Linked DNA regions of Homo sapiens: regions 2, 3 and 4 are each reported to be linked to region 1. The links are microRNA targets in miRTarBase. Many come from high-throughput screens and were not tested one by one. Region 1 holds a microRNA gene; each other region holds the end of a gene's coding sequence.

Region 1 (3,227 bases):
CACTCAATACTGCATATGTTTCAATAATTAACTAGTGTATTTAAGAAACTTCATTCTACGTGGGCATGGTGGCTCACGTCTGTGAACCCAGAACTTTGGGAGACCGAGGCAGGTGGATCACCTCAGGTCAGGAGTTCGAGACCAGCCTGACCAACATGGCCAAACCCCGTCTCTACTAAAAATACAAAAACTAGCCTGGTGTGGTGGTGGGCGCCTGGAATCCCAACTACTCCAGAGGCTGAGGCAGGACAATCGCTTGAACCTGGGAGGCGGAAGTGGCAGTGAGCCGAGATTGTACCATTGCACTCTAGCCTGGGCGACGGAGCAAGACTCTGTCTCAAAAAAAAAAAAAAAAAAAAAAAAAGTAACTTCATTCTAGCATTCGTAGGGAATGGAGAGGTGGCCACTATCCAAATGAAACTAAAAACCTTTTTCTTCCCAGACTCATACTCCAGATTATGCACACAGAGAATACAGAAAACTATGGGAAAACTGGACATTGCACATTTTCATATGACATCATCTGTTATTTTTTTTGTCTTGCTCTGTCACCCAGGCTGGAGTGCAGTGGCGCCATCTCGGCTCACTGCAAACTCTGCTTCCTGCGTTCAAGGGATTCTCCTGCCTCAGCCTCCTGAATAGCTGGGATTACAGGCGTGCACCACCACGCCCGGCTAATTTTTTATATTTTTAGTAGAGATGGGGTTTCGCCATGTTGGCCAGGCTGGTCTCAAACTCCTGACCTCAGGTGATCTGCCCGCCTTGGCCTCCCAAAGTGCTGGGATTACAGGTGTGAGCCACCGCGCCCGGCCGACATTGTCTGTTTTAAGGGAGGTATTCCTCAGCTCTTCGGTGATAAACTGCTGATGTATTGCACTGCCTGACAGTCACCAAGTTGGAACATGATAAATACTGCAGATGTGTAAGGCACAAAATGAGACTTATACAAAGTAGAGATGGAATCGCAAGAATTCCCAGGCCCTCTTTTTATTTACAGTGATACCAAACCATCCACTTGCAAATTCTTTGGTCTCCCATCAGCTGGAATTAAGTAGGTACTGTGTATCTTTGAGATCATGTATTTGTCTCCACTTTGGTGGATACAAGAAAGGAAGGCACGAACAGCTGAAAAAGAAGGGTATCACACCGCTCCAGCTGGAATCCAGCAGGAACCTCTGAGCATGCCACAGCTGAACACTTAAAAGAGGAAAGAAGGACAGCTGCTCTTCATTTATTTTGAAAGCAAATTCATTTGAAAGTGCATAAATGGTCATCATAAGTCAAACGTATCAATTAGACCTTCAACCTAGGAAACAAAATTTTTTTTTTCTATTTAATAATACACCACACTGAAATTATTTGCCAATGAATCCCAAAGATTTGGTACAAATAGTACAATTCGTATTTGCTTTCCTCTTTCCTTTCTTCAGACAAACACCAAATAAAATGCAGGTGAAAGAGATGAACCACGACTAGAGGCTGACTTAGAAATTTATGCTGACTCGATCTAAAAAAAATTATGTTGGTTAATGTTAATCTATCTAAAATAGAGCATTTTGGGAATGCTTTTCAAAGAAGGTCAAGTAACAGTCATACAGCTAGAAAAGTCCCTGAAAAAAAGAATTGTTAAGAAGTATAATAACCTTTTCAAAACCCACAATGCAGCTTAGTTTTCCTTTATTTATTTGTGGTCATGAAGACTATCCCCATTTCTCCATAAAATCCTCCCTCCATACTGCTGCATTATGGCACAAAAGACTCTAAGTGCCACCAGACAGAAGGACCAGAGTTTCTGATTATAAACAATGATGCTGGGTAATGTTTAAATGAGAACATTGGATATGGATGGTCAGATGAAAGATACCAAAATGTCAGACAGCCCATCGACTGGTGTTGCCATGAGATTCAACAGTCAACATCAGTCTGATAAGCTACCCGACAAGGTGGTACAGCCATGGAGATGTCACGATGGTAGGCAAAACAAGCAGACAGTCAGGCAGGATTTGATAAAAAAACAAAAACAAAAACAAACCAAAAAAACCCAGGCATTTCTGGCCTGTTAAGATCGAACCCCAATTCTATTCTATTCTGACATAATGCTCATAATGCTCCTAAAGGAAAAAAGTAAAATTGTTTATTTTCCTCCCAAGCAAAACAAAATGAACAAGTTCAATCAAAAACATCCCAATGGAAAAAAATCACACTAAGAATAAAACACTTACAGAACGGCAAGAAAACTGGGTTAACATATAAATTTGTGTCTGTTGAAACCAGAGTACATGCTAGAAAACATTAACACAGATACGACAGAGTGTGGTTTTTTTTTAGAAATGGGTAATTTCTCTCTCCAGTATCCTTTCACTTGTATGAGATATTTCTCCTCTCCTGTTTTCACAAACCAAGAAATCCCCAGGTAGGCCAATCCCAGAGGTGCCATTTAGCAGTATGCAGCAGCCCAGTTTCAGCATAACAAAACATGCCTTGGTAGTGGCTCTCTCATGCAAATAAAAGAAAGCTTAAGAAATTCTTGTTGTAGGTGGATTAGGCAAGGCTGCCATTCAGCTGGTATAAGCTAAAAGTAAAAAATCAAAACGCTCAAGAAAACGGACACAATTTTGGAATGATTAAAGATGTCTTTATAAAGTTTTTTTCAAGACTTCATTCTAAATACACAGAATAAAAAATGGTGTCAGCTCACTTGTAAGACACCAACCAGATTTTCCTTATACTGTCTCAAAATTTAAAGATCAATTTCCCCAGAGGGTGTGCAATGCATCATAAAATGGCCCTTTTTTGAGGATGGGAGAGGAAGGGTTGGGCAGGATGGAATATTAAATTGTAACATGATAAACATGCAAGACTGTTATCCAATCTAGATAATTTATATACATTTTGATGACTTAGGAAAACAAAGCAATCATTTGTGACAAGCCTAAAAAGCTTGACATATTTAACATACTTAGGAACTTTTTTTGTGCGGTGGGAATTCTCTAATTGTATCATGTGGGCCTTTTGAAAGTAACAAACAGAAGGCCAGTCTGTTGCAAGTTTGCTGCTGAACATCACATTCCACCCTAAGAAAACACAAGGTGGATTGCATCGAGGGTGGATACCTTACCTTAGCACAGAAGGAAAAAGTATGTCAGTGCAAAGTATGGACTAAACTGCTTTCAGGAAAAAAGTTGTAAAAATTGATACAGGTTGGAAAAGGGAATTTTCCTTCCCGG
Region 2 (3,227 bases), not on the chromosome of region 1:
CCGCCAGTCAAACTGGAACCCCCAGCACCTCCTGATCCTCCAGGCCCAGTTTGCCGCCAGCCTCCGGCAGACCTCAGAAGGGAAGTACATCATGTCAGACCTGAGCCCCCAGGAGCGGATGCATATCTCCAGGTTCACCGGGCTGTCCATGACCACCATCAGCCACTGGCTGGCCAACGTGAAATACCAGCTTCGAAGGACAGGTGGAACAAAGTTCCTCAAAAACTTGGACACTGGCCACCCCGTCTTCTTTTGTAACGATTGTGCGTCCCAAATCAGGACTCCTTCCACGTACATCAGTCACCTAGAGTCACACTTAGGCTTCCGGCTACGGGACTTATCCAAACTGTCCACCGAACAGATTAACAGTCAGATAGCACAAACCAAGTCACCGTCAGAAAAAATGGTGACGTCCTCCCCCGAGGAAGACCTGGGGACTTCCTATCAGTGCAAACTTTGCAATCGGACCTTTGCCAGCAAGCACGCTGTTAAACTTCACCTTAGCAAAACACACGGGAAATCTCCGGAAGACCACCTTCTGTATGTCTCTGAGTTAGAGAAGCAGTAGCATTTGCTTTTGATAGAAAGGACTGCAGTTTGCTTTGAGGGAAACTGTGGAAGGCACCTTCAGGCCCCCTCTGACTTGTTGTTCTTGGCACATGTTCTTATTTTAACTGCAGAGAATCACTCTGGGCTGGACTGTTTTGTATAACTGTACAGTGTTTAATAGAGGTGCATAATCAGCTGTTGTTACTGGTAAAATATGAAGGTTAAAATGCAGTGGTAAGTGTTTGGAACTTTGTGTAAACGGGATTTAGTTGTGAGCATCCTCCCGATGCTTCAAGCTGCATGCATTAACAGACAGTTTAATTAAGCATTTATAACGGAATCAGGCACACCTTTTCCACGAGACTCGAGTGTGCTGGCATTTCTCACCCTTTCATCTTTAGCCCTCTGAGTACTTTGAAGCACTTTTGCATTAATTTGGTTAAAAAATAAAATAAAATAATAATAATGTATGAAGCTCTGTTTTTTAAACTCCTTACCAGCTTAGTTATAATGAATAATATGAACCTCCATTTATGCAGGTCTGCAGGGGTATAACACGCCTTGAAATTTAAAAGAATATTATTTTCACATTGAAACATAGATGTATATATTGTATAGATTTCAGACTCTCTTATGAAAAAAAATGTGATTGTGGTTAAATGACCTTTTTCTTGCATTTATAGCAACAGTGTTTTATGCACCTGCTATGCTCTGGGCATAAGCTGTGCCTATGTATAGTGTATATTTCTTTTTTTCTTTTTTTTAAGGTCTATGGGTTTTGTTTTTTACATGCAAACATTGTAAATTATACAGAAGATACCACAGATAGCATTTATAAAGTATACAGAAACATTATCTGAAAGCAAAGTATGATAGTTTGTTTTGCTATACAGTACATCTATATTGATAGAGGTTCATGTTTAAATTATACATATTTATTAGCATCATATTGTCATTTGTTTTGAGCAGTCTGAATAAACGAGACCGGGAAAGACATCCCTGGCAGGCATCAGAACTATTTTGCACATGATTTTTAAAGGTATTTATTAGAAATCAAAGAACACTCAAAATAAACTCAGTGCTCAAAGGGTTAAGTCTATTTGAAAAGGTTAAAAAAAAGAACAAAAAAAAAAAAAGAACTTGTACTGTATTTCCTAAACATTGATAAAGCCTTTAAAATGTTTGTACTGTAATACTTTGCTTAAAAGTCATGAGGCATTCTGTGATCCAACCTCTTTCACTTATTTATAAGCCCTCTTGGTTGCTATTCCATATTGTAGGATGCCTTTCTATTTCAATTGGTAACTTTCTGTTTTGTTCTTCCTAATTATTCTCCCAAGATCCCACACTGCAGCTTTATCTTTAGGCTTATGAAAGGTAACCCGTGGTTACCGGCTCTCCAAGTGATTCTGTTCTTCTCCATTTTTGGCAGTTAATTTGCAGAAGTAACTGACAGCTGACACCATATGAGAACCTTTGTATAAAATATTGGCATGTAAACAGCACAGACACCGTAACACACTCTGTGCCCTGTTTGGTTGTTGACAATGAAGCACCATTATGTGACTCTTCATATAACCCTTTTTTCTACGGCAGCATTAAAATTGTCTTTTTGCTATAATTTTGTGTTGCGTTCACAATTATGTCTGAAATGTGCTACGACTAACGAGCACATTAAAATTAAATTGTATGCGATCTGTTTATGACGGAGCTGGTTGCTGCGGCTGCCAGGTGCTGGCAGTCGGAAGCTGTGCGTAAATCAGGGGGAGTTTTAGTGAACTTTGGCGTTTGGAGAGCAGGGAGCACTTACTCAGAGGCAGCTCGAATAGGATCTGCACCGAGAATAAACATTCACAAGAAAGGAAGATATGCCTATAAGGTTAGATGCTCAGTGCAGAAGGGATATTGCCAGACCCCCAGGATCAGAGCTTCCGGTCACACCTGGTGACCTGCATGGGGGTCTGGGGTTTGATCTCTCTTCTGGATGCCCGGGGTTCAGGGCCCTGCACTGTCAAGGAGGCTGATGGGAAAGAAAGCTTTGAAAGGGTGACTCCTTCCTGTTGACTCAGGATTTTCAAACAGCGGGAAACAGAACCAATCGGGTCAGACAGACTTTGGGGTCCCAAGGTTCTCCCTCCTGTGTTAAAACAGCCACAGATAAGCAGGCAGGGGTGTTGTGGGAGGAGACTGAACCCATCCATGGGAGGAGGGGGAGAGCATTTATATGATAATCACAAGCTTTTATTAGCCCCGGCAAATCATGCCAACAAAACGCTGGGAACATCATGTAAAATTGTAAAATACCTTTATTACTATATTCAAACTACTCTTGCAGTTATGCAGAATCATAGCTCCTAACCTAGAATTATACAAATGAGAGATGTATTACATCCATGTAATACATAAAACACCTCAACTTAAAAAAAAAAACACATATTTTATTAAAAATTTAAGCCCTTTCAGAGATGTTCGGCAACACGCCTACGGTTTTTCCGCTCATCCCCACCCCTTTTTCTCAAGAGGAGTCCAAATTTTTCTGTCTACTCTGTTTTCTCTCGGCATTCCATCTTTCTCCGGGTTTTTAGGGAGAAACTCACTACAATTTAAAATGAGTTGTTTGGCAAATAGAGAGTGCTGTGTTAGCTAAGCTCTTGCCTTGGGATGTGGGCACACAGGTG
Region 3 (3,197 bases), not on the chromosome of region 1:
ACAAGGAGACAGAGAATCTAGAACTACTGCCAGGATTGTTACAGAAGGACACATTACAATTTTCCTTAACTGTTATTTGTTTTTCATGTTTAATATTGTTTATAAAAAAAGTTACTTCACTGTAAAAAAAAAAAAGTTGTACATAAACTTGATCACTGTAAGATAATCAAATTGCATTTCAGTTGCAAGTACACTCTTTTGTTTTCCCTGTCACTTAGGGAACGGTTATCATCATTGCAAATCATGGTGACAGAATTGATATCCCACCTGGAGCAGTATTAGAGAACAAGATTGTGTCTGGAAACCTTCGCATCTTGGACCACTGAAATGAAAAATACTGTGGACACTTAAATAATGGGCTAGTTTCTTACAATGAAATGTTCTCTAGGATTCTAAAATAGGCAGGTACTTTACTATGTTACTGTACCCTGCAGTGTTGATTTTTAAAATAGAGTTTTCTGCAGTATGCTTTTAGTCTAAGAAAAGCACAGATGGAGCAATACTTTCCTTCTTTGAAGAGAATCCCAAAAGTTAGTTCATCTTAAAGTGCAATATTGTTTAATCTTAAAACTGGGCAACTTTGGAAGAACTTTTAACAGAAGCCTCAATGATGATCACTTTGAATTGCTTGTGATTTCAAAAATAAAGCAGTGAAGCAATACTTGTGTACACTGGTACTTTATAATGCTAACTATAAACTGGTTTATTGTTGTTAGACAGTTACTATATTAGTTGGAAGATTTGCCCTTTAAGTACACACTGGCTAGTTACCTAGCCAGTGTGTACTTAATGAGTCCAGTTTTTGGCATTTCTAAGAATCTTAATCATACCATTATTTCCACAGGAATTAAACTGAAGGTATTTTCTTTAGTACCTACCTTTCATCTAGTTCTAAAACTGGGATGCCTGCCATGCTTTCCACAAACTCTCCATTTATTGAAACAAAGTGGCATTTATTTTCCCAGCTGACGGGGGTGGGCAAAGGGAAGGCATTTCTTCACATCCTTGTACTCTTCTATAGTGAGGTAGGGGGTATAGCTTCATAAAAAGTTCCCTTTCCCTGAAGCTTCATTTCCTGAAGCTTGTTTATTATCACTGAAAAAATGATCATTAATAATCTTTCCATTCAGGTCTGCTGGTAGTTCAATTTATGCCTTTTCTTTAAATTCATCCATACTTGTTTTGAGTAGGCTGCTTGTTTAAAGTTCACAATATACCACTTAAAAAAAAGTTGCCTTTTAAAGTCTGTTAATTTTTTACAGCTTTATTTTAGACAGATAGTTTAAGAACCAAAGACATACCTCTGTAATGATAAAGGAAAGAAAACAAGCTTTCCTTTTAAGAAACCAAAGAGCACAAAATAAGACTGTTTCATTATACATAATCACCACAGGATATTAGGCACTCTGACAGGGTTAGGCAAGATTCTTGGTGTGAGGTGAAGCACAGGCACTTTATTTGTACAGTGCTGCTGATTCTAATTTTGAAGGTAGGTATTATAAAAGTCTTTACTTGTCACCTTATTTCTGGCCCCAACACAGCAGCCTATAGTTTTAAAAGTTCTGTTTCTCCCTGGTCTTTGTTCGTATACACATCGAAAGTAACTTAAAAACAAGGATCCAAGGGGGCCATACTTCATATGTTATCTAAATGTTAATATGAGAACTCAAAAGTAGGCAGATTATATGAATACATATTCTTACCTCTGCTACAAATAAAAACACCCCAAACCCTTCATCATACTTTTATAAAAATACAGATATTAAACTGTAGCCTTTTATATACCATTTCTGAAAAGTATTTAGTTGCATAAATAGATGCCAGGATCTTTTTTTTTAAGTATTAATTACTTAAAAAAAGGCTTAAGTCTTTCAGGTATTTAGAGAGCTCTGGAAGGCTTTACCCAGTTGACATACGGTGGTAGTAGAAATATTAAATATGCAACACACAAAGCCTGCAACTTGACATTGGTCACTGAAACAAAAATTGAATTCCTAAATCCAAGCAATCAAAAGATGTTTATTTTTTATAGAAAGATCTGTAAAAAAATAATAATTTTTCAAACAGCTTTACTTTCATAGAGAAAACTTTCTACAGAAGTTGACTAAGATTTTAAATTGTACCATCATTAAATAAGGTGGGACACCATATGAATTTCATTGCACTGGAAGAAATGCAAAGCATTTTTTAATATAAAGTATACAGAGCATTCTAGTCAACTACAGCTGTGTTACAGCTATGTGTTCTTTTGGATTTGGTCCAAAGAAACCTGAGTCTGTTTCCAGAGAGAATGAAAAATGTTATAGACACCTGATCAGTTACTCCTCACTGTAGGATGCACAAAAATGACATTCCTTGTAGATCCCACTGAATCCAGTTTCCCAACACTTGATACTTTCCTTTTTCCCTTCCCCCACCCCAGTTCACTTTGGGTTTCAGGTTCAATTCTCGAATCACAGGCATCCAGATTTTCTTCATAACAAACACATCCCATGGTCAGATGAACTACCCAGTTTTCCAGGATGACATCACCTCTTCTGCTCCCAAATTTCGGCCATATTTAGGTCCAAATCTTTAAGGCCTTTTAAGGCTTGAAGATTTCCAGTGTAAAAAGCTACATCTGCTGTGACCAACCTAAATAATGGAGAGAAAATTATTTTTTAAATCTCAAACTTTCTATTCAGATAATTAAAGTAACAGTGCTCACCGAGTCAGAGTCCTATTATCTAAAATTCAGATTTCTTAGTGCCCAAGTGTCCAAATACTTTACTTAGCAGGATTCCTGCTATGAATAAGTAGGCCATTTAATGCTGTACTTCAATAATAAATATTTGGAAAATGAATAAACCAATGGCTGTTAGAGTCAGTTTCATGATAAATTCAGCCCAAGAAAATCAGATTTATCTTGAAACAGCATGAATTAATATACAGAGAAAATAACAGGCTAAACTAAAATGTTTTTGATTGGTTAGCACTAGAGTATGGGAGTGCTGACTAAAATAGTAAACTCAAGGGAAAAGCAGGCTAGGTTTCTAAGTGTCATCTAAGGCGTTAAATACAGACTAGTATTCATGTATATAAGCGATACTGGATATTTCTTTAAAAACCCAAGAGAAAAATAGGAAAGAACATAAGAAGTCACAGATGAAAACACCTGAATAACCAATAAACTGAAAAAATGGTAAACGTCAGGAAAA
Region 4 (3,000 bases), not on the chromosome of region 1:
TTAACCTATAACCTTGGGGAAAACAATTTTATCAAGTAGAGTGCAGAGCTTGTGTACATTTTCTTTTGCCTTTAAGCTTACAGGCTCCACTCATTTACAAAGTTACTCAGATCAGAAACTTTTCCCCCAACTCAACTCAGAGAGATTGTTTCACACATTTGTAACAGTTACATCATTTTTGTCACATTGTGCATTCCTTCCTGGAATCCTCTGACTTCCTAAATGATTTTTCTTTTAATTCTCATACATTGTTTCATTCTTTGTGCAGTAAAGTTCTATGGGGTTTGACAAGTGCATAGTGTCATGTATTTACTGGTATAGTATCATACAGAATAGATTCATCACCCTAAAAAATCTTTTATACTTTACCTATTCAATCCCTTTTTTCCTCTTAATCCACTGGCAGTCATTGATATTTTCACCAACCCTATACTTTGGTCTTTTACAAAATTGGAATCAGAGTACACATGTTCCCAGACTTACAATGATTTGACTTACAAGTTTTTTAAACTTTAAGATGTGTGAAAGCAATAAGCATTCAGTAGAAGCCATACTTTAGTACCCATACAAGCATTCTGTTTTTTACTTTCAGTAGAGTAGTCAATAAATTACATGAAATACTCAATTACATGAGATACTCAAAGCCAATTATAAAATTGGCTTTGTGTTAGATGCTTTTGCCCAACTATAGGCTAATGTAAACATCCTGAGCACATTTAAGGTAGGCTAGGCTAAGCTATGATGTTTGGAAGGTTAAGTGTTTTAAATGCATTTTCAGTTCACAGTATTTTCAACTTGCAATTGTTATAACAGGATATAACCCCATCATAAGTTGAGGAGCATCTGTATGTAGCCTTTTCAGACTGGCTTCATTAACTTAGCAATATTCATTTAAAAATGTATCCATGTCCTTTCATAGCTTGATAGATCATTTCTTTTCATCATTGAGTAGCATCCCACTGTTTGGATGTACCATAGATTACATATCCATTCACTTATTGATGGGCATCTTTATTGCTTCTAGTCTCAGGCAATTATGAATAAATATGATTTTAACATTTGTGTGCAGGTTTCTGTGTGGGCATAACTGTTCAAATTGGTTGAGTAAATATCTAAAGGCATGATTACTGAATGACATAGCAAGAGTATAATCACCTCTCTAAGAAACTACCAACTGTCTTCCAAAACAGCATTACCATTTTGCATTCCTGCCAGCAATAAATGAGATTTCCTATTGCTCTATATCTTTGACAAAAATTGCTACTGTGAGGGTTTTTTATTTTTTTGATTTTGACCATTTAAAATGTATAGTTGCGTAATATTGTTGTTTTAATTTGCAATTCCCTAGTGAGATATGATGTTAAGCATATTTTCATATGCTCATTTACTATCTGTATATCTTTTTCTATTCAGATTTTTTGGCCAATTTTTCTGGCCTTTATTTATTTATTTATTTTTTTATTTTACTTTAAGTTCTGGGATACATGAAAGAAAGTGCAGCATGCAGGTTTGTTACATAGGTATACATGTGCCATGGTGGTTTGCTGCACCCATCAACCCGTCATCTAGGGTGCAGTCAGCCTTATAAGGACAGAAACACCAGGGTTAGTGTGTATCCAAGGAAAATGTGCCACCTTGGCCACAGGTGTGCTCCAACATCAATGCTACTCAGTTTCTCTTCCTATCTGTTTCTGTGTCTTCCTTCTTCTCTTCCCACCACTGTTACCCATATATGCTACCTTTCTCACACTTTCTGCAAACTCATAACTTCCTCTTACACAGGGCACTCTGTTACTTGAACACTACCTCATGGTATCTATTTACATCCTATTATCTTCAACTACTACACCACCTGCCACATTATCAGCATTTTGTTTGCTCAGTCCCATGAGAAGAACCTGACTAGCCATCCTTAAAAAAACACTCTGTTCCCAATCCAATCACCTAGTTCAACCATGTGCCCAAGGCTGCCTGGCCAGCCAGGGCAATGATAATTCAAGCCAATTCCACCCACAGCAAGTTATTTCTCAGATCTTAGTTTTTACCAGTTGAAATGCCCCCTGAAGTTTTCTTTGATGCTCATCCCTATGTCTGTTCAGTTTTTTTTTTTCTGCCCTGAGGTTCCCCCAAGAGCTCTATCAGAGAAAGACTTGGCCCATGCTGCCAACACACTGGGAAGCTGGGGTTAGCCCTCTCCAGAACCCACGGGCAGAAAAGGACAGTGCCAGAAAGTGTCAGGGCTAATCCAAAGAGAATTCCAACGGAGAGGAGTGTGTGTGTAGATGAGGATAGAGGATAGTCACAGAATTCTCAGTACAAATTGGAGATTATTATGGCCCAAGTGTTCACATTTTCATACAGGAGATAATAAATGACCAAGTCTGAGCTTATTCATGGCAGTATCACGTAAGGAGAGCAAAACCCCTCCCACCTGTTAGCGACAGGGATGTGCAAAGAGTGAGTCTAGTGCTCCATCATCAATAGGCTCCGCTGTCCACACTGCGTCTCCTTATGCCTGCTTGTCTTTTCACTATGAGCTGGCTTTCTCACTCTCTACCAATGCATAGAAGAGGAGAGCAAAATTCAGGTTCAGGGAAGAGAAAAAGAGCGTAGTGGTTGAAAAAGAACCCAAAATCCAGGAGAGACGTAGAACTAAACTCCCTCAGGGAGGTTGCAGTAGTTACTATGATCACAACAGATGAGCTCTACCCTCTTCGTGAACCCCAGGAAGTTGATGTCCTCACAGCTGGTCATACACGACAGTTTTGAATAATGATACATGCTCTGCCCTGAGGAGGTAAAAGAGAGGAAATATGATCATAATGACCTCATTTCCTTTTACTGCGTTCCTAGGAGTAATCTGTTTTTGTGTCCTCACTAACCTTTCTCTAGGCCCAAATGAGTTCCAAAGCTGAGTCTGTTAATTGCTGACCCAGAGAGTAGATTTTATTCCCTGCCAGGTAAGGGACATCAGCCTCTTTTTCACTCAATATGGTCTTA

Evidence for each region. Region 1 holds the annotated microRNA hsa-miR-21-5p (UAGCUUAUCAGACUGAUGUUGA, at 1,913-1,934, opposite strand). A microRNA usually pairs through its seed, bases 2 to 8, with sites in the 3' UTR of a target mRNA and lowers its output. Matches are read on the target gene's strand: a 7mer-m8 pairs with bases 2 to 8, a 7mer-A1 pairs with bases 2 to 7 and ends in A, and an 8mer does both.
Region 2: miRTarBase lists TSHZ3 as a target of hsa-miR-21-5p. Seed matches in the 3' UTR shown: 7mer-m8 at 1,267-1,273.
Region 3: miRTarBase lists VPS54 as a target of hsa-miR-21-5p. The part of its 3' UTR that is shown has no 7-base or 8-base seed match.
Region 4: miRTarBase lists PATE2 as a target of hsa-miR-21-5p. Seed matches in the 3' UTR shown: 7mer-m8 at 2,385-2,391.

The regions. Positions count from the first base shown.
Region 1 is chr17:59,839,980-59,843,206 of GRCh38, reverse strand. It overlaps MIR21 (microRNA 21), which reads right to left and starts at 1,941; the gene lies at 1,870-1,941. It overlaps VMP1 (vacuole membrane protein 1), which reads right to left. Exons shown (of 12, transcript NM_030938.5): 12 at 952-3,227. RefSeq lists a silencer at 686-880 and an enhancer at 2,166-2,895.
Region 2 is chr19:31,273,888-31,277,114 of GRCh38, reverse strand. TSHZ3 (teashirt zinc finger homeobox 3) reads left to right here. Exons shown (of 2, transcript NM_020856.4): 2 at 1-2,170. The coding sequence ends at 568. Among named protein-coding and RNA genes, the nearest start is that of TSHZ3-AS1, 46 kb to the left of the region's middle.
Region 3 is chr2:63,890,902-63,894,098 of GRCh38, forward strand. VPS54 (VPS54 subunit of GARP complex) reads right to left here. Exons shown (of 23, transcript NM_016516.3): 23 at 1,249-2,634. The coding sequence ends at 2,529. It overlaps UGP2 (UDP-glucose pyrophosphorylase 2), which reads left to right. Exons shown (of 10, transcript NM_006759.4): 10 at 219-659. The coding sequence ends at 326. Among named protein-coding and RNA genes, the nearest start is that of UGP2, 51 kb to the left of the region's middle.
Region 4 is chr11:125,774,730-125,777,729 of GRCh38, forward strand. PATE2 (prostate and testis expressed 2) reads right to left here. Exons shown (of 4, transcript NM_212555.3): 4 at 1,384-2,789. The coding sequence ends at 2,653. Among named protein-coding and RNA genes, the nearest start is that of PATE2, 2.6 kb to the right of the region's middle.